4 separate regions of the Homo sapiens genome follow, and all the other regions are linked to region 3. The links come from fine-mapping of genetic effects on gene expression. A gene starts in region 3. Each other region holds a variant in brackets. All regions are shown on one strand. Distances are from middle to middle. Region 1 overlaps TNFAIP8L2-SCNM1 (TNFAIP8L2-SCNM1 readthrough). Region 2 overlaps PIP5K1A (phosphatidylinositol-4-phosphate 5-kinase type 1 alpha). Region 3 holds the start of PSMD4 (proteasome 26S subunit ubiquitin receptor, non-ATPase 4). Region 4 has its middle 6.2 kb from the start of ZNF687-AS1.

The links.
Region 1: its variant is fine-mapped to the expression of PSMD4 in whole blood (INTERVAL, PIP 0.96).
Region 2: its variant is fine-mapped to the expression of PSMD4 in whole blood (TOPMed, PIP above 0.99).
Region 4: its variant is fine-mapped to the expression of PSMD4 in whole blood (TOPMed, PIP 0.97).

Annotation. Positions count from the first base shown.
Region 1 is chr1:151,168,061-151,173,060 of GRCh38, forward strand. It overlaps TNFAIP8L2-SCNM1 (TNFAIP8L2-SCNM1 readthrough), which reads left to right. Exons shown (of 7, transcript NR_144937.2): 6 at 89-278; 7 at 926-2,236. It overlaps SCNM1 (sodium channel modifier 1), which reads left to right. Exons shown (of 7, transcript NM_024041.4): 6 at 84-278; 7 at 926-2,236. The coding sequence ends at 1,025. TMOD4 (tropomodulin 4) reads right to left here. Exons shown (of 10, transcript NM_013353.3): 5 at 4,208-4,297; 6 at 3,573-3,703; 7 at 3,373-3,480; 8 at 2,860-3,003; 9 at 2,459-2,603; 10 at 1,927-2,043. The coding sequence ends at 2,021. Among named protein-coding and RNA genes, the nearest start is that of SCNM1, 4.4 kb to the left of the region's middle. The variant A/G (reference allele first, on the strand shown) is at 2,687.
Region 2 is chr1:151,223,922-151,230,126 of GRCh38, forward strand. PIP5K1A (phosphatidylinositol-4-phosphate 5-kinase type 1 alpha) reads left to right here. Exons shown (of 16, transcript NM_001135638.2): 2 at 324-358; 3 at 450-485; 4 at 3,399-3,479. Among named protein-coding and RNA genes, the nearest start is that of PSMD4, 28 kb to the right of the region's middle. The variant A/G (reference allele first, on the strand shown) is at 3,117.
Region 3 is chr1:151,252,520-151,257,519 of GRCh38, forward strand. It overlaps PSMD4 (proteasome 26S subunit ubiquitin receptor, non-ATPase 4), which reads left to right and starts at 2,215. Exons shown (of 10, transcript NM_002810.4): 1 at 2,215-2,289. The coding sequence starts at 2,264. RefSeq lists an enhancer at 2,107-2,296 and a silencer at 2,337-2,476.
Region 4 is chr1:151,272,677-151,278,881 of GRCh38, forward strand. No RefSeq gene overlaps it. Among named protein-coding and RNA genes, the nearest start is that of ZNF687-AS1, 6.2 kb to the right of the region's middle. The variant T/C (reference allele first, on the strand shown) is at 2,901.

The DNA.
Region 1 (5,000 bases), 84 kb before region 3:
AAGCACTGTTTTAAGAGGTTGGGAGTCATAGGAGAGTTGGCCCTTTCCCTTACTGCTTTTACAGACTATTCTTCTCTACCTAGACCAGAAGCCCCTGGTCCCTCTGTCTCCCTTTCCCCTATGCCACCCTCAGAGGTCAAACTCCAAAGTGGGAAGATCAGTAGGGAACCTGAACCTGCGGCTGGCCCACAGGCCGAGGAGTCAGCAACTGTCTCAGCCCCTGCACCCATGAGCCCCACAAGAAGACGAGCCCTGGACCATTATCTCACCCTTCGAAGGTGAGTATGCCTAATCAGTTTCCTCAGATTTTCTTTTCTCTCTGACACCCTTGTTTCAAAGCTATTGTTTTTCCTTTTTTTTTTTTTGAGATGGAGTTTCACTCTTGTTGCCCCAGCTGGAGTGCAATGGCACGCTCTCGGCTCACTGTAACCTCCACCTCCTGGGTTCAAGCGATTCTCCTGCCTCAGGCTCCCGAGTAGCTGGGATTACAGGCATGTGCCATCACGCCCGGCTAATTTTGTATTTTTAGTAGAGACGGGGTTTCTCCATGTTGGTCAGGCTGGCCTCGAACTCCTGACCTCAGGTGATCCACCTGCCTCAGTTTCCTAAAGTGTTGGGATTACAGGTGTGAGCCACCGCACCCGGACTCCCATTGTTGTTTTCCATCTTTGGTTTCGTTTTGTTTTAGCCACCCAACTTACATGGCTCTCAATTTTTTCTCACTGCTAACTTTTTTTTTTTTTTTTTTTTTTTTTTTGGTAGAGACAGGGTTTCACTATGTTGGTCAGGCTGGTCTCGAACTCCTGACCTCAAGTGATCCACCTGCCTCGGCCTCCCAGAGTGCTGGGATTACTGGTGTGAGCTCACCACTAACTTCTTAATAAGCCTCTTTCCTGATCGATGCTATTTTCTCTGATGTTTCCAGCTCTGGATGGATCCCAGATGGACGAGGTCGATGGGTAAAAGATGAAAATGTTGAGTTTGACTCTGATGAGGAGGAACCACCTGATCTCCCCTTGGACTGATACCCTTTTCCCATTCATTCACAAATAAATTACAATGGGTGCTGAGAACTTAACTTTCCTTAAGTCTGGTTCCTTGTTGGATCTCAGGATTTCAGATCTGTTCATTCTCATTCCAACTACTCCTTGCCTGCAAGGTACACAGCTCTCCACACTCCTTTTTTTTTTTTTTTTTTTTTTGAGGCAGAGTCTCGCTCTATCGCCCAGGCTGGAGTGCAGTGGCACGATCTCGGCTCACTGCAAGCTCTGCCTCCCAGGTTCACGCCTTTCTCCTGCCTCAGCCTCCTGAGTAGCTGGGACTACAGGCGCCCGCCACCATGCCCAGCTAATTTTTTGTATTTTTAGTAGAGACGGGGTTTCACTGTGTTAGCCAGGATGGTCTCGATCTCCTGACCTCGTGATCCGCCCACCTCGGCCTCCCAAAGTGCTGGGATTACAGGCATGAGCCACCGCACCCAGCCACGGCTATCCATACTTCTAACCCCTCCCCCACCTCCTACCAAAGCCATGCCAAGCGTCAGCTGCATCAGCCTGGTGCCCTATTAATAAGACTGTCAAAAAGAGGTCTTTGCCCTTCATGTTGTCTGCCTGCTTCTCCACTACCACTCAAAGTCCTTTCCCCCTTCAAATCACATAAGGACTGCAGGTAGGCACTAGGGGGACCTGGCCACATCTGGAAACAGGGCTGTGGCTAAGTTCCCTGTGAAAGTAGAAGAGTCAAAAGGCATTGGCAGGGTTATGGGGAACACCAAGGGAGGGAACACCCCCACCTCCTCCTAGTAACCTGAACCTCCCTGCCTGCTGATCCCCAGAGTATAAATAATCCCCTGGTGAACTGGCAGTAACCCTTGGGGGTTAGCGCCAAGATTCTCACCCCAAAGCCCAAGGAAGGAGGCAGGCAAAATGGATAGAAGGGCTTTTATTTACAGGAAAGGAGGACAGATGAGGATTTAAGTGTCCAGTGCTCCCAGCGCTAGTTGGTAAAGGGAAATGCAGTGTTATCTCTTCTTTTGCTGGCGACCTGTAAAGGAGCAATATTAAACATAAGTGTTTGTTCCAGCTCCTGCTTTCTGCAAAGGCACTCTTCTCCTTTCCAGTCCCTTAGCCAAACTCATAAATTGGTAGTGTCTTAGGCCACCTTACAGGCCCATCCCACATTAACAAAACAAAACAAGAAACCACACCACAAATAAAATTACGATACCTCTAAACAAGTATGATTATCTCTGGCATCCTTTCTACCTCTCTACTGGTCCATATTTGGGGCAGGGGGAGTTTTCTGTTTACTTTCTGATCACTCTTGGGATTTGAAATTCTCATATGAATAGCTCTTTGGTAGCACCCTGGGCTGTTAGTCATTAGGTCTGCTTTCAGGAGGATCCACCAATTTCTGCACTTCCCTGACCACTCCACACATCATGTCTGCAGTTACTCACGTAGTTCATTGTTTCGGGTCATGGCCTGGGCTGCCCGAGCTCGTGGCCCCTGCTGTGTAAAGTGGTAGCCAAAGCGGACAATAGAGGGACACTGCTCTAGCACGGTGGCCATCTCCATCTCCACTGCATCACCAGGCCACTGGCGCTGGGGGAGGGAGAGGCAAAAGCTGACAGTCACCCTCTCTGGGCTGTTTACCATCCCACATCACAGACCCCTTTGGGAGGTCA[A/G]AGAAGCTTGTTTCTCCACAGTGGGTGAAGAGAGATGCTGACTTGGCTTCCCTCACAGAGACAATGAAGAGGAGAATTCAAGCAAGATTAAGTAAGATAGCTGCCCCACTGGCTGGCTCAGGGAGGAGACTCAATGAGACTGAATGCTAACATCAGGGGAAGGGAATGCTGACCTGATTGTCTACACGGAGCTCAGTGAGTGTGGCATTTTCCCGAACTGCCTTCAGCACAGCCATGAGTCCTGTGCTGCTAATGAAGTTGGATTCGATGTTTAGGCTCTGGAGGCTACGATTCTCACGCAACATGTCAGCCACTGCCTGGGTAGTAGGGACTTGGGTTAGGATTAGGGAACAGTTTCACAGATGACTGAGGAAAGAAAGAACAGGAGCAAGAGGGAAACACAGCTCTTTGAGAAGAGTCTTTCAGGTGCTGTAAATGGAGCTAGAGGGATACAGAAAGCAGGGCGGATAGCAGGGGAAAGCAGGGAGATGAATGTGCAGTGGGACTAGGGGTGTTAGAGAGAGTAGAGAGTTATGAGCCATAGCACTGAAGGTAGGAGTCTCCATGAGGGCTGCCCTAAGAAGGCATGATGAGAATAGCACTCCCTAGCAAAACCCTTTATGACAGCCATGCAACAGGTGCATGTAAGATGTGGGGAGAGGGCTGGGGATGTCAACTAGCCTTACATTGGCAATGGGGTCACCACTCCTCGTGGCTACCAGACTGAAGCTCCGCACATAGGTATTTGCCTTCATTGCCTCACACAGCTCACTTAGCATGGGTATTGGGATGTCCTATCGGAGGGGAATAGGAGATGGTGGGCTAAGGGACTCTCGGATGTCAGTGGTTATCCGGTGTTATGGTTTGGAGGATGCAAGTCAAATACCTGTATATTATTCAAGTTCACCTCCTCCAGCTCCTTGTCATTGCTTCGGACCCTCTTTAGTATCTCCTCAATGTTTGTGGGATTTGGGGGTTCATCCGGCACTGGCTTATACTTGTCAGGCTGTACCACACCTGGTGAATGAGGGCAGGAAGGGAACCCCAACATGTTCCCCATAATCTCCTCCCCATTGGTTTTCTTTTCTTTTCTTTTTTTTTTTTTTTGAGATGGAGTCTCGCTCTATCCACCTAGGCTGGAATGCAGTGGCACAATCTCAACTCACAGCAGCCTTGACCTCCCGGGTTCAAGAAATTCTTGTGCCTCTGCTTCCCAAGTATAATATCTGGGATTACAGGCATGCAACCAGCTAATTTTTGTAGTTTTAGTAGAGACAAGGTTTCACTATGTTGGCCAGGCTGGTCTTGAACTCCTGACCTCAGGTGATCCACCTGCCTCGGCCTCCCTAAATGCTGGGATTACAGGCATGAGCCACCTCACCTGGCACTCCACAGGTTTTCTTATCACTCATGCAGCATGTCCTCTCCCAGAATCATCAATTTCACCCTTTTCTACCTTCTCCCAGACACTAGGACTGCCTGCCCAGAGCCCTGGGGACCATGCTCCCCAAACACACTCACTGCTAATGCCTTCAGTGTTGCAGATTTCTCCACTGCAGAGGGCATCATAGTATTGCTTGTTACTCATCAGTGTGTACATGTCCAGAATTGCTGGAGAGGGTAAGAAGAGGAGTCACAGGGAATGAGAAGGAACCTGTTCCAAGCCTCCCTCCTACCTATTTCTGAATCTGTTGCATTTGTAAAGCCTGACCACTTACACTTTGCCAAAGAAGTTTCCCACCCTCTTTCAGCCCCAGGGGTCCTTTCCATAAACTTCTTAAGGCAGTAGTTTCTAAAACATTGAGAAAGGGCTAAGGGAAGGTCCCTTATGAGCCACTAGAGGATAAAGGAGTCTGTAGAGACTCTCCTCTTTCAGCCAGAATGGTTCCACTTTTTTTCCCCCCGAGACGGAGTCTCACTCTGTCCCCCAGGCTGGAGTGCAGTGGTGCGATCTTGGCTCACTGCCACCTCCACCTCCCGGGTTCAAGCAATTCTTCTGCCTCAGCCTCCCAAGTAACTGGGATTACAGGTGCATGCTGCCATGCCTGGCTAATTTTTTTTGTTGTTGTTTTTGTTTTTGTTTTTTGTTTTTTGAGACGGAGTCTCGCTCTGTTGCCCAGGCTGGAGTGCAGTGGCACTATCTTGGCTCACTGCAAGCTCGGCCTCCTGGGTTCACACCATTCTCCTGCCTCAGCCTCCCGAGTAGCTGGGACTACAGGCGCCCACCACCACACCCAGCTAATTTTTTGTATTTTTAGTAGTGACGGGGTTTCACCGTGTTAGCCAGGATGTTCTCGATCTCCTGACCTCGTGA
Region 2 (6,205 bases), 28 kb before region 3:
CATGCCACTGCACTCCAGCCTGGGCGATAGAGTGAGACTCCATCTCAAAAAAAAAGAAAAAGTTATATTTCCCAGAGAAAATATGGATATTTGAATAAGAAAGGGGTCTAGAATAAAAATGGAATATGCACGAGGCCTATGTGAGTATGGAGAAGGAGAGAGGGACATACACAGTTGCTATCCAAAAGGATCTGGTATTACTGAGCAAGAGGCAGGAGTTTATACTTATGTTTAGTTTGACTCAAACTCTGATGGTTTCAGTATGCTTGACAGAGATGTGAGTGTGTGATACACTCTTATGATTGTTTTTTTTTCCCCCCTAGCAGCATCTGGAATCAAGAGACCCATGGCATCTGAGGTGAGTTTCATACTGATACAATGGTTACTAAAACCTTAATTCTGGGATAGAAGGAACCTGTTTATGACATTTTTATTTTTTCTCTACTTAGGTCTTGGAAGCTAGACAGGATTCTTACATCTCATTGGTAGGCTAGAAATTATGCAACTCATCTTTTATTGTAGTTTATTTTAAATATTAACAATATCTCACATTTATTGAGCATTTTTAATGTACCAAATGCAATATATACCAAAAAGTAAATACTGTACCTAAGTGCCCTTTAAGATATTCTTATTTAATCCTTCAAACAACTACAGTGAGGCAAATACTGTTATCTGTTTTACAGATGAAGAAAGTGAGGATTGCATAGTTACTAAGTGGGATTAGTAAAGCTGGGATTCAAATTCAAACCCAGGCAGTCTGACACTAAAGCTCACTTTCTTTGTTTTGCTGTTATGGCCTCCTGATTGCATACCTTCGATGAATATGAAGAACTTTTAGCCATGCAGAAGCTGTTAGTTTCACAAGTTTCTCTTTTTTGTCCAGAATATCGCCATTTTGCTCAACTTTCTTCCCATGGTGTATTTCCTAACCCTCTTCTCACTTCTTGCCTCTCCCCTGGGTTTTGTGAAAGGGGCCTCAGAATGCAGGCCCTTTTGACCTGGGACTTCAAACTTTCTCTCAGAACATCTTCCAGCATCTGTCAGGTGATATACTGAGAGTTTTCTGGTACTAAGGGCCTTGGCTAAAAGAATAGAACTTGAATATCAGGTCTTAAGATTGGGACATCCAGCCAGTCACGGTTGCTCATGCTTGTAATCCTAACACTTTGGGAGGCCAAGGTGAGAGGATTGCTTGAGGCCAGGAGATCGAGACAGGCCTGTGCAACATAGTGAGACCCTGGTTCTACAAAAAAATAAAACATTAGCCAGGTGCACACCATAGTCCCAGCTACTCGGGATTGCTTGAGCCCAGGAGGTTGAGGCTGCAGTGAGCCATTATCACACCACTGCCCTCTAGCCTGGGTGACAGAGACACCCTGTCTCAAAAAAAAACTGTGATACCCTGTTTCCACTAGTCTCTCAGCCTTCTGGCTTATAAACTTAATGAGTATTGATGTTATGAAGAGTAACTTCATGTCTGTTGCTCTGGCATTTTGGCTCTTGGGGATAACTTTCTAGACTGCTATACTGGTTTACTCCTCCCTTCTTGCCTTTTTTTTTTTTGAGATGAAGTCTTGCTCTGTTGCCCAGTATGGAGTACAGTGGCTCGATCTTGGCTCACTATGTCCTCTGCCTCCCAGGTTCAGGCAGTTCTCCTGCCTCAGCCTCCCAAGCAGCTGGGATTACAGGTGCACGCCACCATGCCCGCCTAATTTTTGTATTTTTAGTAGAGGCAGGGTTTCACCCTGTTGACCAGACTGGTTTTGAACTCCTGACCTCAGGTGATCCACCCGCCTTGGCCTCCCAATGTGCTGGGATTACAGGTGTGAGCCACTGCGCCTGGCCTCTTTTCTTTTTTCTTTTTTTTTTTGAGACAGAGTCACGCTCTGTCGCCCAGGCTGGAGTGCAGTGGCATGATCTTGGCTCACTGCAACCTCTGCCTCCTGGATTCAAGTGATTCTCCCGCCTCAGCCTCCTGAGTAGCTGGGATTAGAGATGCACGCCACCACGCCAGGCAAATTTTTTGTATTTTTAGTTGGAGATGGAGATTTGCCATGTTGCCCAGTCTGGTCTCAAACTCCTAGGCTCAAGTGATCTTCCCCACTTGGCCTTCTGAGTAGCTGAGATTACAGGTGCATGCCACACCACCCAGCTATGTTTCTTTTCTTTTTTTTTTTTTTTGAGACAGAGTCTTGCTCTGTCACCCAGGCTGGAGTGCAGTGGTGCGATCTCGGCTCACTGCAACCTCCACCTCCCAGTTTCAAGCAATTCTCTGCCTCAGCCTCCCGAGTAGCTGGGATTACAGGTGCCTACTACCACGCCTGGGTAATTTTTGTGTTTTTAGTAGAGACAGGGTTTCAACATCTTGGCCAGGCTGGTCTTGAACTCCTGACCTCGTGATCCACTTGCCTCCACCTCCCAAAGTGCTAGTATTACAGGTGTGAGCCACCGCACCCGGCCATCGCCGAGCTGTGTTTCTACTACTGTTTAAAAATACTCACCTTTGGTTGGGTGCAGTGCCTCACACCTATAATCCCAGCACTTTGGGAGGCCAAGGCGAGTGGATCACCTGAGGTCAGGAGTTCGAGACTAGCCTGGTCAACATGTTGAAACCCCATCTCTACTAATAATACAAAAAATTAGCTGGGTGTGGTGGTGCATTCCTGTAATCTCAGCTACTCGGGAGGCTGAGGCTGGAGAATCGCTTGAACCCGGGAGGTGGAGGTTGCAGTGAGCCGAGATCGTGGCATTGCACTCCAGCCCAGGCGACACAAGCGAAACTCTGTCTCAAAAAAAAAAAAAAAAGTACTCTTATTTTCTGGCCGGGCATGGTGGCTCACACCTGTAATCCCAGCACTTTGGGAGGCTGAGGCAGGTGGATCACTTGAGGTCAGCAATTTGAGATCAGCCTGGCCAACATGGTGAAACCTCATCTCTACTAAAAATACAAAAATTAGTCAGGTGTGGTGGTGTGCACCTATAATCCCAGCTGCTCGGGAGGCTGAGGCGAGAGAATTGCTTGAACCGAGGAGGTGGAGGTTGCAGTGAGCTGAGATTGTGCCACCGCACTCCAGCCTGGGCAACAAGAGCGAGACTCTGTTTCAAAAAAATAA[A/G]GAGTAAAAATACTCACTTTTATTTTCTGTGTCTTCTTTCTGAGGACCAAAGGGAAAATATGTGTCCCTTGGAGTTTTCTTCTGTGATCTTTTAGCCACTTAATTCATTGGGAACCAACATTATAGCTGTATATTTGCATGGGATAGATCTGAAGATTTTGTAAAATGTTTTTAATCTAGAAAGAATATGTTGTTTCAGTTTATTTTGTTTTGATGTACCATTGTGGTAGCTATTTGGTGTCTTACATGGGAATTGTATTATAATCTTGACTCTTCTTCTAGGTGCCTTATGCCTCTGGCATGCCCATCAAGAAAATAGGCCATAGAAGTGTTGATTCCTCAGGAGAGACAACATATAAAAAGGTGTGTCTGGATGAAACCGTCTCATCTTACTCCAGGAGCTCAGCAGCTTACTCTGGGAACTCAGTCTCCTTGAAATTACTCTCCATGTACTGTCCTGTTTCTTGATCTCCTAAGCTTTTGCACATAATACAGCTTAGACTTTAGATTTATTTCTCAAAGGGTAAATTGTCTCCTTTTTGTATATGAATGTTTAAATGAGATTTTTTTTGGCTGGGCACAGTGCCCCAGGCCTGTAATCCCAGCACTTTGGGAAGCCGAGGCAGGCAGATCATTTTAGGCCAGGAGTTCAAGACCAACCTGGCCAACATGATGAAACTCTGTCTCTACTAAAAATACAAAAATTAGCTGGGTGGCACACGCTTGTGGTCCCAGCTACTCGGGATGTTGAGGCACGAGAATCGCTTGAACCTGAGAGGTGGAGGTTGCAGTGAGGTCAAATTGTGCCACTTGGTGGCACTAGCCTTGGTGACAGAACAAGACTCCATCTCAAAAGAAAAAAAAATTAGTGAACAAATCTGGCATTGGTTGCTATTTTACTGAGCTGAAGAAACTGGGTTTCCCTGTTAGGTATAAATATGTAACAAGGCCATGAAAGCCATTCTTATCTTACCACAGGGAACCATGTCTCTCGCAGTCTTTCTGTCTTTTTGTCCATTGCTGGGTATATATCAATAGAGGGCCAGGTCCCAGCCCAGCCTGTTGATACAAATATACACAATAGGTCAGACTTTTTTTTCTCTTCCATTTTTTTTTTAGAGCCAGGGTGTCAATCTGTCACCCAGGCTGGATTGCAGTGGCATGATCATTGGCCGGTAGCAGGAGGCTATTGTAACCTCCGACTCCTGGGCTCAAGTGATCTTCCTGCCTCAACCTCCTGAGTAGCTGGGACTACAGGTGCACACCACCACACATGGATAATAATAAATTAGTTTTATGACATGATCTCGCTGTGTCGCACAGGCTGGTCTCAAACTCCTGCCCTCAAGCATTCCTCCTACCTAAACCTTCCAAAGTGCTGGAGTTACAGGGGTGATTGACCGTGTCTCACCCCCTTTTCCTCCACAAAGACAGTCATTTAGCTGGCGAATAGTACCTAGGACATCTGCTTTTTTGAGCTCTGAATATCAAATGGACTGGAAAGGAGCAGTAATAGTGAAAAAGTGGAAATTGGGCTGGTGAAGGGAAAACAGAAGCATCCTGGATCCTTGAGGGATCCAAATTCTTGAGTTCTGGACTGGTTTTCAGATGGTTTAGGCTTCCTGAGGGACAGTGTTCAGTCTCCCATTTAGCATCTGTGGTTTGTCTAATATGGGATGTGAAGATTTCTTGGAGTTCTAGGTTTCTGGCCTATGTAAATTTTGTGTTCATTCTCTATTTCATTGTCCCAAGTAGCAGAGGTGGACTGACTCATTCTCAGTCAAGGACCTGACAGTCCCCAGAATGGACTCTGTGGCTCATGTCAATTACTTTTACTGAGCTCTTCATTTTTAAATTTTTTTTTTTTAAGAAATGGGATCTTGCATTTGGGAAGCTGAGGCGGGTGGATCACCTGAGGTCAGGAGTCGGAGACCAACCTGACCAACATGGCAAAGCCCCATCTCTACTAAAAATACAAAAATTAGCTGGGCGCGGTGGTGGGCATCTGTAATCCCAGCTACTCAGGAGGCTGAGACATGAGAATAGCTTGAACCTGGGAGGCGAAGGTTGCAGTGAGCCGAGGTCGCGCCATTGCACTCCAGCCTGGGCAACAGAGCGAGACCCCGTCTCAAAAAAAAAAAAAAAAAAAAAAAAAACAGGAAAGAAAGAAATAGGATCTTGCTCTGTTGCCCAGACTGGAATGCAGTGGGTGCGTTGATGGCACACTGCAGCCTTGAACTCCTGGGCTCAAGCCATCCTCCTACCTCAGCCTCCAAAGTAACTGGGACTACAGGCCTCAGCCACCACACCTGGCTTATTTAGCTTTTTTTTTTTTTTTTTCCTGAGGGAGTTTTACTCTTGTTGCCCAGGCTGGAGTGCAATGGCGTGATCTCCACTCACCAAAACCTCTGCCTTGCGGGTTCAAGCGATTCTCCTGCCTCAGTCTCCCAAGTAGCTGGGATTACAGGCATGCACCACCATGCCTGGATAATTTTGTATTTTTAGTAGAGATAGGGTTTCTCCATGTTGGTCAGGCTGGTCTTGAACTCCTGACCTCAGGTAATCTGCCTGTCTCGGCCTCCCAAAGTGCTGGGATTACAGGCATGAGCCACAGCACCCGGCCATTTAGCTCTTTTTATATGTTGAACATTAAGATAAAAAGATGAGTTTCTATTATAACTGGGGAGGCAGGTACTTAAAAAAAAAAAGAAACTAATAATTTATTTTCCTTTGACCTATTTGTACATGAAAAAAACTAGTTGTAGGCTGGGCATGGTGGCTCATGCCTGTAATCCCAGCACTTTGGGAGGCCGAGGCAGGTGGATAACGAGGTCAGGAGATCGAGATCATCCTGGCTAACACGGTGAAACCCCATCTCTACTAAAAAAAAAATACAAAAAATTAGTCGGGTGTGGTGGCTTGCGCCTGTAGTCCCAGCTACTCAGGAGGCTGAGGCAGGAGAATGGTGTCAACCAGGGAGGCGGAGCTTGCAGTGAGCCAAGATCACGCCACTGCACTCCAGCCTGGGCGACAGAGCGAGACTCCGTCTCAAGAAAAAAAAAACAAAAAACTAGTTGTAATTTATTGCC
Region 3 (5,000 bases):
GCTGGCACCATCACAATCAGCTAATTTTTGTATTTTTTTGTAGCGACGGGGGTATCCAGGCTGGTCTCGGACTCCCAACCTCAAGTGATCTGCCCACCTCGGCCTCTCAGTGCTGGGATTACAGGCGTGAGCCACCGTGCCCAGCTGGCCTTCTTTTTTTCATTATGGGAATTTCCAAACCAAAAGTAGAGTAGTATGGTGAACCACTATGTACACATAACCCAGCCTCAATAATTATCAACATAAATAAGACCAGCGTGGCCGGGTGCAGTGGCTCAAGCCTGTAATCCCAGTTTTCGGAGGCTGAGATGGGAGGCCAGGAGTTAGAGGTTGCAGTGAGCTATGTATGATTGCACCACTGCTGCACTCCAGCCCAGTGAGACCTTGTCTCTTTTGTTTTACTTTGAGACCCTGTCTCAAAAAACAAAACTATTTGTTTCTTCCAGAGGATTAAGTTAAATCCCAAACTTCATATACTTTTTTTATCTATGAATACAACATATAACCCTTAATAAAGCCTACTTTTATAAGGGTGATAACTTTAACACTATTATCATGCCTAAAAAAATTGCTTAATATCAAATATCCAGCTGATGTGATGGCTCACGCCTGTAATCCCAACACTTTGAGACTTTTTTTTTTTCAGAGATGGGGTCTGGCTATGTTGCCTACGCTGGTCTCGAACTCATGCGCTCAAGCCATCCTCCCACATCAAAAAATTAAAAACAAATTAGCTGGGCTTGGTGGCATGCACCTATAGCCCCAGCTACTCAGGAGGCTGAGGCAGGAGGATGGCTTGAACCCGGGAGGTGGAGATTGCAGTGAGCCGAGATCAGGCCACTGCACTCCAATCTGGGCAACAGAGCGACACCCTGTCTCAAACAATAAAACTTTGTAGAGACGGAGTCTGGCTGTGTTGTCCAGGCTGGTCTCAGACTCCTAGCCTGAGTTGATCCTCCTGCCTGGGCCTCCCAAAACGCTGGGATTATAAAACCTAAGCCATTGCATCAGGCCTTGAATGTAATTTTTGATTAACCAAAACGGTTTAGTGGTTTGTTCTTTGGCAGATTAGTTAATATAATTGAGTTGTCAAATCTTTTCCGGGCTCTGTACTGGGCTTAGGGAATTGTAAAGATTAAGACACGTTGCCGGCCAGGTGTGGTGGCTCACGCCTGTAATCCCAGCACTTTGGGAAGCTGAGGTGGGTGGATCATCTGAGGTCAGGAAATCGAGACCAGCCTGGCCAACATGGTGAAACCTCGTCTCTACTAAAAATACAAAATTAGCCGGGCATGGTGGAATGCCCCTGTAGTCCCAGCTACCTGGGAGGCTGAGGCAGGAGAATCCCTGGAACCCAGGAGGTGGAGGTTGCAGTGAGCCGAGATCGAGCCACTGCACTCTAGCCTGGGTGAAAGAGCGAGACTCCTCCGTCTCAAAAAAAAAAAAAAAAAAAAAAAAAAAAAAAAAAAAAAAGGCACGTTGCCCACCCTTAGTTAAACGAGGGAGGAGATAAATATACAAATAAATTCAATTGAAGGGTATAAGGGCTTGTTGAATTAAAATTCTACAGGGAACTGAGGGCTGTAGAAAGTCATTAGCGATCCCGACACTTTTTTTTTTCTTTTTTTGAGACGGAGTCTCACTCTGTCCCCCAGGCTGGAGTGCAGTGGCGCGATCTCGGCTCACTGCAATCTCTGCCTCCCGGGTTCAAGTAATTCTCCTGCCTCAGCCTCCCGAGTAGCGGGGATTACAGGCGTGCGCCACCATGCCCGGCTAATTTTTTGTATTTTTAGTAGAGACAGGGTTTCACCATGCTGGCCAGGCTGGTCTCGAACTCCTGACCTCGTGATCCGCCCGCCTTGGCCTCCCAAAGTGCTGGGCTAACAGGCGTGAGCCACCGCGCTCGGCCGATCCCGACACTTTTTTAAAATGCCGAAGCCGGAATCGACACAGCACTTTCAAAGGTTCCTCCATAGCTCCCCTGAGATCCGGCCAGCGGGAAACCCCAACTGAGAACTGCAATGGCAGGGAAAGTGGAGGCTAGATCCTGTTTTTTGTGTTACCGCGATTCCCTTCAACTACCCTCAAGACGCCTACAAATTTGTTTGGCGGCACCTACAACTCCCAGAACGCAACGTGGGGGACGGAGGCGGAAGCAGCTGGCCAAGCCGAGGTCTGTGATTGGTGAAGAGCGACGGGCCAATTGGAGGAGTTGTTGTTAGGCCGTCCCGGAGACCCGGTCGGGAGGGAGGAAGGTGGCAAGATGGTGTTGGAAAGCACTATGGTGTGGTGAGGAGCTACTTCGGGGCAGGAGGGGCAGAGCTGGGTTCCGGGCGCGTGTAGCGCCAAGGCAGGGAGGGCCTGGGGTGGGGGCCAGGGGCTCATGGGCGAGAGGCGGCCCTGGCCCCGGAGGTAAGGAGCCCGCTGGACTCCCTGAGTCATCCCGGGGCCCTGGAGTGGCGGATAGTCCCGGGTTACCACTGTTACCCCCAGGGGGACGGTCATTGACTGGTCATTCCTGCTTCCTTTCTCTGTTCTAGCGCCGTCTTCTCTAGAGCAGCCCGGGTCTGTCTTTAGCTACAGTTCTGCTTTTCGGACTCATCGTAATAGTTTTCTGCCCTCCTTTCTTTGCAAAATAACGTCTATTAGGAAAATAGATTATTAATCCCTTCCTCTCCCCATTCCCTCGTCTCTAACTTCATTACCTTTCCCTGTATCATCTTCAAAGGTACCATTTACAGATTGCTTTTTATGTATCAGTCATTTTGTTTATCTCACTTATACCTCACAACCACACCTTAAGGTAAATTATCTCTCCATTTTACGGTTCAGGATACCGAGTCTCAGCGATTTTAAGTGATTTGTCCAAAATCATACAGCTAGTTAAGTGGTGGAGTCAAGATTTAAACCCACGGCTGTCTGACACAAAGGCTTTATCCGGTGAGGTAGCTCTCTTTGTCAGTTTCAGGCTTGGGCTGAGTACCTATTACGAGTCACATTAGAAGAGGAGGACATAAATTTTTGCAGGGTTTCAAGAGTTCCTTCTAAGTGTAATCACTGAATGTAATACAGAATAGTTGACGAACACAAATCACCGATTGGGTGAAACAGGCACCTATGAGATTTCTTCTTTTTATTTTCTCGGGGGAGCATAGCATTGCCAGATAACATACAGGATGCCCAGTGAAATTTGAGTTTCAGATAAACGATGAATAATTTTTTTTTGAGACGGTCTCGCTCTGTCTCCCGGACTGGAGTGCAGTGGCCCAGTCTGGCTCACTGCAGCCTCCGCCTCCCTGGTTCAAGTGATTCCCAGTGATTGAACTAATTTACACTTGCACCAACGATAGAACAGTGTTCTCTTTTCTCGCAACCTTGCCAGCATCTGTTATTTTTTTAGTTTTTAGTAATAGCCATTCTGACTGGTGTTAGGTGGTATCTCGTTGTGGTTTTGATTTATTTGCATTTCTCTAATGATCAGTGATATTGAGGTTTTTTTAATAGGCTTGTTGGCTGTATGTATATCGTCTTTTGAAAAGTGTCTGGCTGGGGCGTGGCTCAGGCCTGTAATCCCAGCACTTTGGAAGGCTGAAGTGGGTGTATCACCTGAGGTCAGGAGTTACTGACCAGCCTGGCCAACATGGTGAAACCCCATCTCTACTAAAAATACAAAAATTAGCCAGGCGTGGTGGTGGACGCCTGTAGTCCCAGCTACTCCAGAGGCTGAGGTGGGAGAATCGTTTGAACCCCGGAGGTGGAGGTTGCAGTGAGCCGAGATGGCGCCACTGCACTCTAGCCTGGGCGACAGAGTGAGACTCCCTCTCAAAAAAAAAAAAATAATAATAAAATAAATAAATAAATAAATAAATAAATAAAAATAAAGTGTCTGATGTCTGTTCATGTCCTTTGCCCACTTTTTTTTTTTTTTTTCTCTTTGAGAAGGAGTTTTGCTCTTGTTGCCCAGGTTGGAGTACAGTGGCGCCATCTCAGCTCACTGCAACCTCCGCCTCCCTGGTTCAAGTGATTCTCCTGCCTCAGCCTCCTGAGTAACTGGGATTACAGGTGCCCGCCACCACGCCCAGCTTTTTTGTATTTTTGGTAGAGACGGGGTTTCATCATGTTGGCCAGGCTAGTCTCAAACTGCTGAGCTCAGGTGATCCACCCGCCTCAGCCTCCCAAAGTGCAGGGATTACAGGCGTTGAGCCACTGTGCCCGGCTCCTTTGCCCACTTTTTTTTTTTTTCGCTCTTATTGCCCAGGCTGGAGTGCAATGACACAATCTCAGCTCCCCGCAACCTTCGGCTCACCGCAACCTCCGCCTCCCGTGTTCAAGCGATTCTCCTGCCTCAGCCTCCTTAGTAGCTGGGATTACAGGCATGCGCCACCACGCCCAGCTAATTTTGTGTTTTTAGTAGAGACCAGGTTTCTCCATGTTGGTCAGGCTGGTCTCGAACTCCCACCCTCAGGTGATCCGCCCGCCTCAGCCTCCCAAAGTGCTGGCATTATAGGCGTGAGCCACTGTGCCCGGCCGGTCTTCCAGGATTTTTATAGTTTTGGGTTTTACCTTGTCTTTAATCCATCTTCAGTTAATTTTTGTGTATGGTATAAGAAAGGAGTCCAGCTTCAATCTTCTGCATATGGCTAGCCTAGCCAGTATCCCCAGTTATTGAATAGGGACTCTTTTTCCTCACTGCTTGTTTTGTCAGCTTTGTCAAAGAATAGATGGTCATAGGTGTGCGGCTTTATTTCTAGACTCTCTATTCTGTCCCATTGGTCTCTGTGCCTGTTTTTGTACCAGTGCCATGCGGTTTTGGTTATTGTAGCCCTAAGTAATAGTTTGAAGTTGGGTAAAGTTGCCTCCAGCTTTGTTCTTTTAGCTTAGGATTGCCTTGGCTTTTCTGGCTCTTTGTTGGTTCCATATGAATTTTCAAATAGTTTTTTCTAGTTCTTTGAAGAATGTTTTTGGTAGTTTGATAGGAGTAGCATTGAATCTGTAAATTG
Region 4 (6,205 bases), 21 kb after region 3:
TGGGTCCCCTACTGTAGAAGCTTTGTTCTTTCGCTCTTTGCAATAAATCTTGCTGCTGCTCACTCTTTGGGTCCACACTGCCTTTATGAGGTGTAACACTCACCACGAAGGTCTGCAGCTTCACTCCTGAAGCCAGCGAGACCACGAACCCACCGGGAGGAACGAACAACTCCAGATGCGCCGCCTTAAGAGCTGTAACACTCACCGCGAAGGTCCGTGGCCTCACTCCTGAGCCCCCAAGACCACGAACCCACCAGAAGGAAGAAACTCCAAACACATCCGAACATCAGAAGGAACAAACTCTGGACACGCTGACTTTAAGAACTGTAACACTCACCGCGAAGGTCTGCGGCTTCATTCTTGAAGTCAGTGAGACCAAGAACCCACCAATTCCGGACACAATGCCATTCTCCTGCCTCAGCCTCCCGAGTAGCTGGGACTACAGGTGGCCGCCACCACGCCTGGCTAATTTTTTGTATTTTTAGTAGAGACAGGGTTTCACTGTGTTAGCCAGGATGATCTCCATCTCCTGACCTCGTGATCCGCCCGCCTTGGCCTCCCAAAGTGCTAGGATTACAGACGTGAGCCACTGCGCCCAGCCCAGCTTAGCTTTTTAACAGCTTAGTTCTTTCATCTTTGTTTGAATACAAAGGCCAAGGAAAATAGTCTACATGTTATTTTCAGGAAAATTTTCTGTATAAATTATTGTTATTGAAGCATTAATTTTCTATTTCATGATCAGGTTACATGCCTTGGAAAGGATGTAGTATATGATGAAATTGCCCAAATCATTTGAATGATAATAAAAGTTTAAAAAAAAAAAAGAAAAAAATTAAAGGTGGCTGTGTGTAACAAGATGTTGAAAGGTTTTCCTGGTTGTGTTGGAGTTTGAGCTGAGTCTTAAGGACAGAAGTGTACACAGGTACCCCCACATTGTAGAAAAATACTTTTCCAGCCACGCAAAAGACAGCACAATTCCTCCAGCTCCCATGGCCCCCACTGCCACCTGCAGCCTCTATGAGATGACACATTTGACACAGGAAAGAGAGCACGCTCATGGAGATAGATCTGTTGTTGATTGCTGATCTCTCTGGAGTCCTTTGGTATTCCCTGTTTCTTGTTCTTTAGGGGCGAGGGGAGGACGCAGACCAAGGTAGGACAGTACCAAGAGACTGGGAGTGCCTGTAAGAAACAGATGGGCATCTGAGTCCTTGGCTGGATGTTTCCTGGGTGGCAGAACTCCTGACCCAGTGTTGTCAAAGACCACAAGCAAGTCACTGAGAGAGAGTTCTGGAAGAGCCTGACATGAATTTACTGGTATTTGGGAGATATAAATGAACATAGAGACCAATGTCTGCTGAATGGGACATGTGGGAGGTTGGCTGGAGCCCAGACCTGGAATGGTGGCACTAGTGGGTAGACTTTATTTCAGCACCTGGCATGCTAAGAATGTGGGAGTTTCCCACGGACCAAGAGGAAAGCATGGAAAGTACCCAAGCTTGAGCCATCCAGATAGAGCCTGCCCAAAAGGAGTTCCTGAAGGGCAAGAAGAGCCCAATGGTAAGATGCCATGGGGCAAAAGTGCAGGGCACTGTGCAAGAGGTCACCTGGAGAGTGCACTGCAGATGCCAGAGAAAAGGGCAGTGGAGAGGTCCTGTAAGTCTCCCAGGGACCTTCAAATATGCTCCACCCAAGAGAAAGCGAGCATTTAGGAACCTGTCACACAGAGGGCTCTGACAGCCCCTGTCATGTAAAACTTGACTCCTTTCCTTCCTCGCACCATCCCAACTCTGGAGAAGCCAGAGGCAGGAAGGGAAGGGAGGGTGAAAGAAGAGCAACAGGCCGCGTGCGGTGGCTCATGCCTGTAATCCCAACACTTTGGGAGGCCGAGGCGGGCAGATCATCTGAGGTCAGGAGTTTGAGACCAGCCTGGCCAACATGGTGAAACTGTCTCTACTAAACATATAAAAATTAGCCAGGCGTGGTGGCGGGCGCCTGTAATCCCAGCTACTGGGGAGGCTGAGGCAGGAGAATTGCTTGAACCTGGGAAGCGGAGGTTGCACTGAGCTGAGATCACACCATTGCACTCCAACGTGGGCAACAAGAGTGAAACTCCATCGCTAAATAAATAAATAAATAAATAAATATAAAAATAGGGTAGATGTGGTGGCTCATCTCTACCAATAATAAAAAAATTAGCTGGGCGTGGTGGTGCATGCCTGTAGTCCCAGCTATTCGGGAGGCTGAAGTGGGAGGATCACATGAGCCCAGGAGCTCAAGGCTGCAGTAAGCCGAGATTGTACCACTGCGCTCCAGCCTGGGTAGCAGAGTGAGACCCTCTCTCAAAAAAAAAAAGCCAGGCATGGTGGCTCACGCCTGTAATCCCGGCACTTTGGGTGGCCGAGGTAGGCAGATCACGAGGTCAGGAGTTCGAGACCAGCCTGGCCAGTATGGTAAACTCCGTCTCTACTAAAAACACACATAAAAAATTAGCCGGGTGTGGTAGTGGGCACCTGTAATCCCAGCTACTCGGGAGGCTGAGGCAGGAGAATCGCTTGAACCTGAGAGGTGGAGGTTGCAGTGAGCTGAGACTGTGCCATTGCACTCCAGCCTGGGTGACAGAGCGAGACTCAGTCTCAAAAAAAAATTATAATAATAATCAAGAATGAGGATAGGAGTAGTATAGGACAGAGTGGGGTGAGGCAGAAGATGGCTGCAACAAGGAGAGGTGGTGGGTGCTATTAACAGAAGGTGCCGCGCCATTAATCTGGGGGTATGTGTGTCTGTGTGTGCATCTCCAAAGATTCCTCCTACTAGCCAGGCGCAGTGGCTCACATCTGTAGCCCCAGCTACTTGGGAGGCTGAGGTGGGTGGATCGCTTGAGCCCAGGAAGTTGAGGC[T/C]GCAGTGAGCCGTGATTGCACCACTGTACTCCAGCCTGGGTGACAGAGCAAGACCTTGTTTAGAAAAAAAAAAAAAAAGTGTGTGTGAGTGTGTGTGCATATATCTATCTATCTATCTATCTATATATATATATATATATATATATATATGCACACACACACATTCCTCTTACTCTTTCCTAGGCAATGGTTACCACAATTCTGCTACTATCACCATTGATTTACTTTGCCTGCTCTTGAACTTTATTTATTATTTATTTTTATTTTATTTTATTTTTTTGAGACAGAGTCTTGCTCTGTCGCCCAGGCTGGAGTGCAGTGGCATGATCTCGGCTCACTGCAACTTCTGCCACCTGGATTCAAGCGATTCTCCTGCCTCAGCCTCCCAAGTAGCTGAGATTACAGGTGCGTGCCACCACGCCTGGCTAATTTTTGTTTTGTTTCAGGATCTTGGCCAGGCTGGTCTTGAACTTCTGACCTCGTGATCCACCTGTCTCAGCCTCCCAAAGTGCTGGGATTACAGGTGTGAGCCACCACGCCCAGCTTGAACTTTATATAAATGGAATCATACTATATATTTATAGTATATATATACATAAATAGAATCCTACTCTCTATGTGAAGTTCAAGAATTTTTTCTTTTTTTTTTTTTTTTTTGAATCGGAGTGTCACTCTTGTTGCCCAGGCTGCAGTGCAATGGCACAATCTTGGCTCACCACAACCTCTGCCTCCCGGGTTCAAGCGATTCTCCTACCTCAGCCTCCCGAGTAGCTGGGATTACAGGCATGCACCACTAAGCCTGGCTAATTTTGGTATTTTTAGTAGAGACAGAATTTCTCCATGTTGGTCAGGCTGGTCTTGAACTCCTGATCTCAGGTGATCCACCAGCCTTGGCCTCCCAAAATGCTGGGATTACAGGAGTGAGCCACTGCACCCGGCCCATTCCTGCTGATTTAAATATCCAGGTAAATGAATCTTCCAGGCCACTGGCCTCTCAGTCTCTTGATCTCCCCTCCTAGTCCATTCCTCTCTCCTGAATGCCTATTTCCTATCTTTTTGCTCCTCAAATTCCTAGTTTCTTCTTCATCCTCACTCTTAGAGAGTGATCTTGATTTTTTATTCCCACGAAGAGTTTGACAACACATGTTCTTGTTTCTTATACCACTGGACAACAGAAGCAACAAAGAGATATCCCACAGCTCCCCAGCTCCCTCGACCCATGCCCGCTCACTCTGCCTTCTCTCCCAATTATTATTCGGGAACTGTCCCTGCCCCTGTGTAAGGCAATTCCTCTGTTTGTGAACTTGACCCTCTCGCTCACCTTCTGAAGAACATGACTCCAGAAACTTTCCCTATCGCTCTGCTACAACTTCGGTTTTTCCTGTCTACAGGATCCTCCCCACCCGTGTACTGACATACAACTTCTTCATCTTCAAACAGTCCTTTCCTTGGGTCAGTAGAACCTGATGAGAAAAAAATGTAACCATTAAAAGAAATAGTCCTCTTGGTCACTCTTTTTCCTCTAGTTACCATCTTTTTTCTCCTTCCTTCCTTTGAAAGAGTTTTATAGTGACTTTTCTTTTTTCCTCCTCCATTCTTGTAAACCCATTCCATGAAGGCTTTTGTCCCCACCAGTCCATCAACTCTCTCCTCATCATGATCACCAGTGACCTCCATTTTGCCTTAATCCATTGGTCAATTCTCAGGTTTCATCCTATTTGATATTTTAGTGGCATCTGACTATCATTCTCTCTTCCTCTTTCTTGAGATACTTTTTAAATTTAGCTTGAAGGTTACAACACTCTCCTGGTTCCTTCCTTCCTCTTTGCTGTTCTTCTCATCTCCTTGACCTTTTAACTTCGGAGTTTCCCATGCCTCAATCCTCCCTTGGTGATCTCATCCATTCTGACCTGGGTTTTAAATACTATCTATAAGCTGATGACACCTACATTTGTATCTCCACTTGGATGTGTAATACCTCAACATGACTAAAACTGAGCTACCGACCTAACCCCTAAAACCTGCATCTCCTGTAGTCTTCTCAGCTCAAGAAATGGGGCAACATCATGCTTCTACTTCCTCAGCCTCCATGCTTTGGAGTCTTTTTCTTTCTTCCACACCCCACTTTCAACCCTTTTAAAACGTTTAAGTCAGGCCACCATGTCATCTGTCTCCTTTTGATGGCTTTCTAACCCACCGTGAGAAAATGCCAAAGACCTTCCCATAGCTTCCAAAGCATCCCATGACCCAATTCACTCCTCCCACCCCCTCTGGAACACACTCCCCTCCTGAGGACCTTGTACTTGTTCTTTCCTCCTGGAATGTTCTTGTCCCAGATAGCTGCATGGCTCACTCCCTCATCTCTTTCAGACCTTTACTTAACCACCATCTTCTCGAAAAGGCCTTTACTGTCCACCCTACCTAAAATTGCAACCCTCCCACACTTACTGTCATCTTTCCTTGCTTTTGTTTTTGTTTTTTTGAGACAGAGTCTTGCTCTGTCACCCAGGCTGGAGTGTGGTGGTGCGATCTCGGCTCAATGCAACTTCTGCCTCCCGGGTTCAAGCGATTCTCCTGCCTCAGCCTCCCAAGTAGCTGGGACTATAGGCGTGTGCCACCATGACCAGCTAATTTTTTGTATTTTTAGTAGAGACAGGGTTTCACCATGTTAGCCAGAATGGTCTTGATCTCCTGACCTCATGGTCCACCCGCCTCGGCCTCCCAAAGTGCTGGGATTACAGGCATGAGCCACTGCGCCCAGCCGCCTGCTTTGTTTTTTTTTTTAAATTGTTTTTGTTTTTAAATTAATACACTTTATTTTTTACAGCATTTTTAGGTTTACAGAAAAATTGAGCACAAAATGCGAGTTCCCACACATCCTCTCTCTCCAGTTTCCCCTATTATTATTATTATTTTGAGACAAGGTCTTGGTCTTTTGCCCAGGCTGGGGTGTAGTGGTGTGATTACAGCTCACTGCAACCTTGACCTCCAGGGCTCAGGTGATTCTCCCTCCTCAGCCTCCCAAGTAGCTGGGACCACAGGTGTGCACCACCATGCCACGCTACTTAAAAAAAAGTTTTTTTGTAGAGATGGGGTCTCTCCATGTTGCTCAGGTTACTCTATTATTTATTAATATCTCGCATTAGTGTGGTACATTTGTTACAATTGATGAACCAATATGGAAACATTATTATTAAGAGACAGGGTCTCACTTTGTTGCCCAGGCTGGAGTGCGGCAGCAGGATCGTAGCTCACTGCAGCCTCAAACTTCTGGGCTCAAGGGACTCTCCTGCTTCAGCCACTTG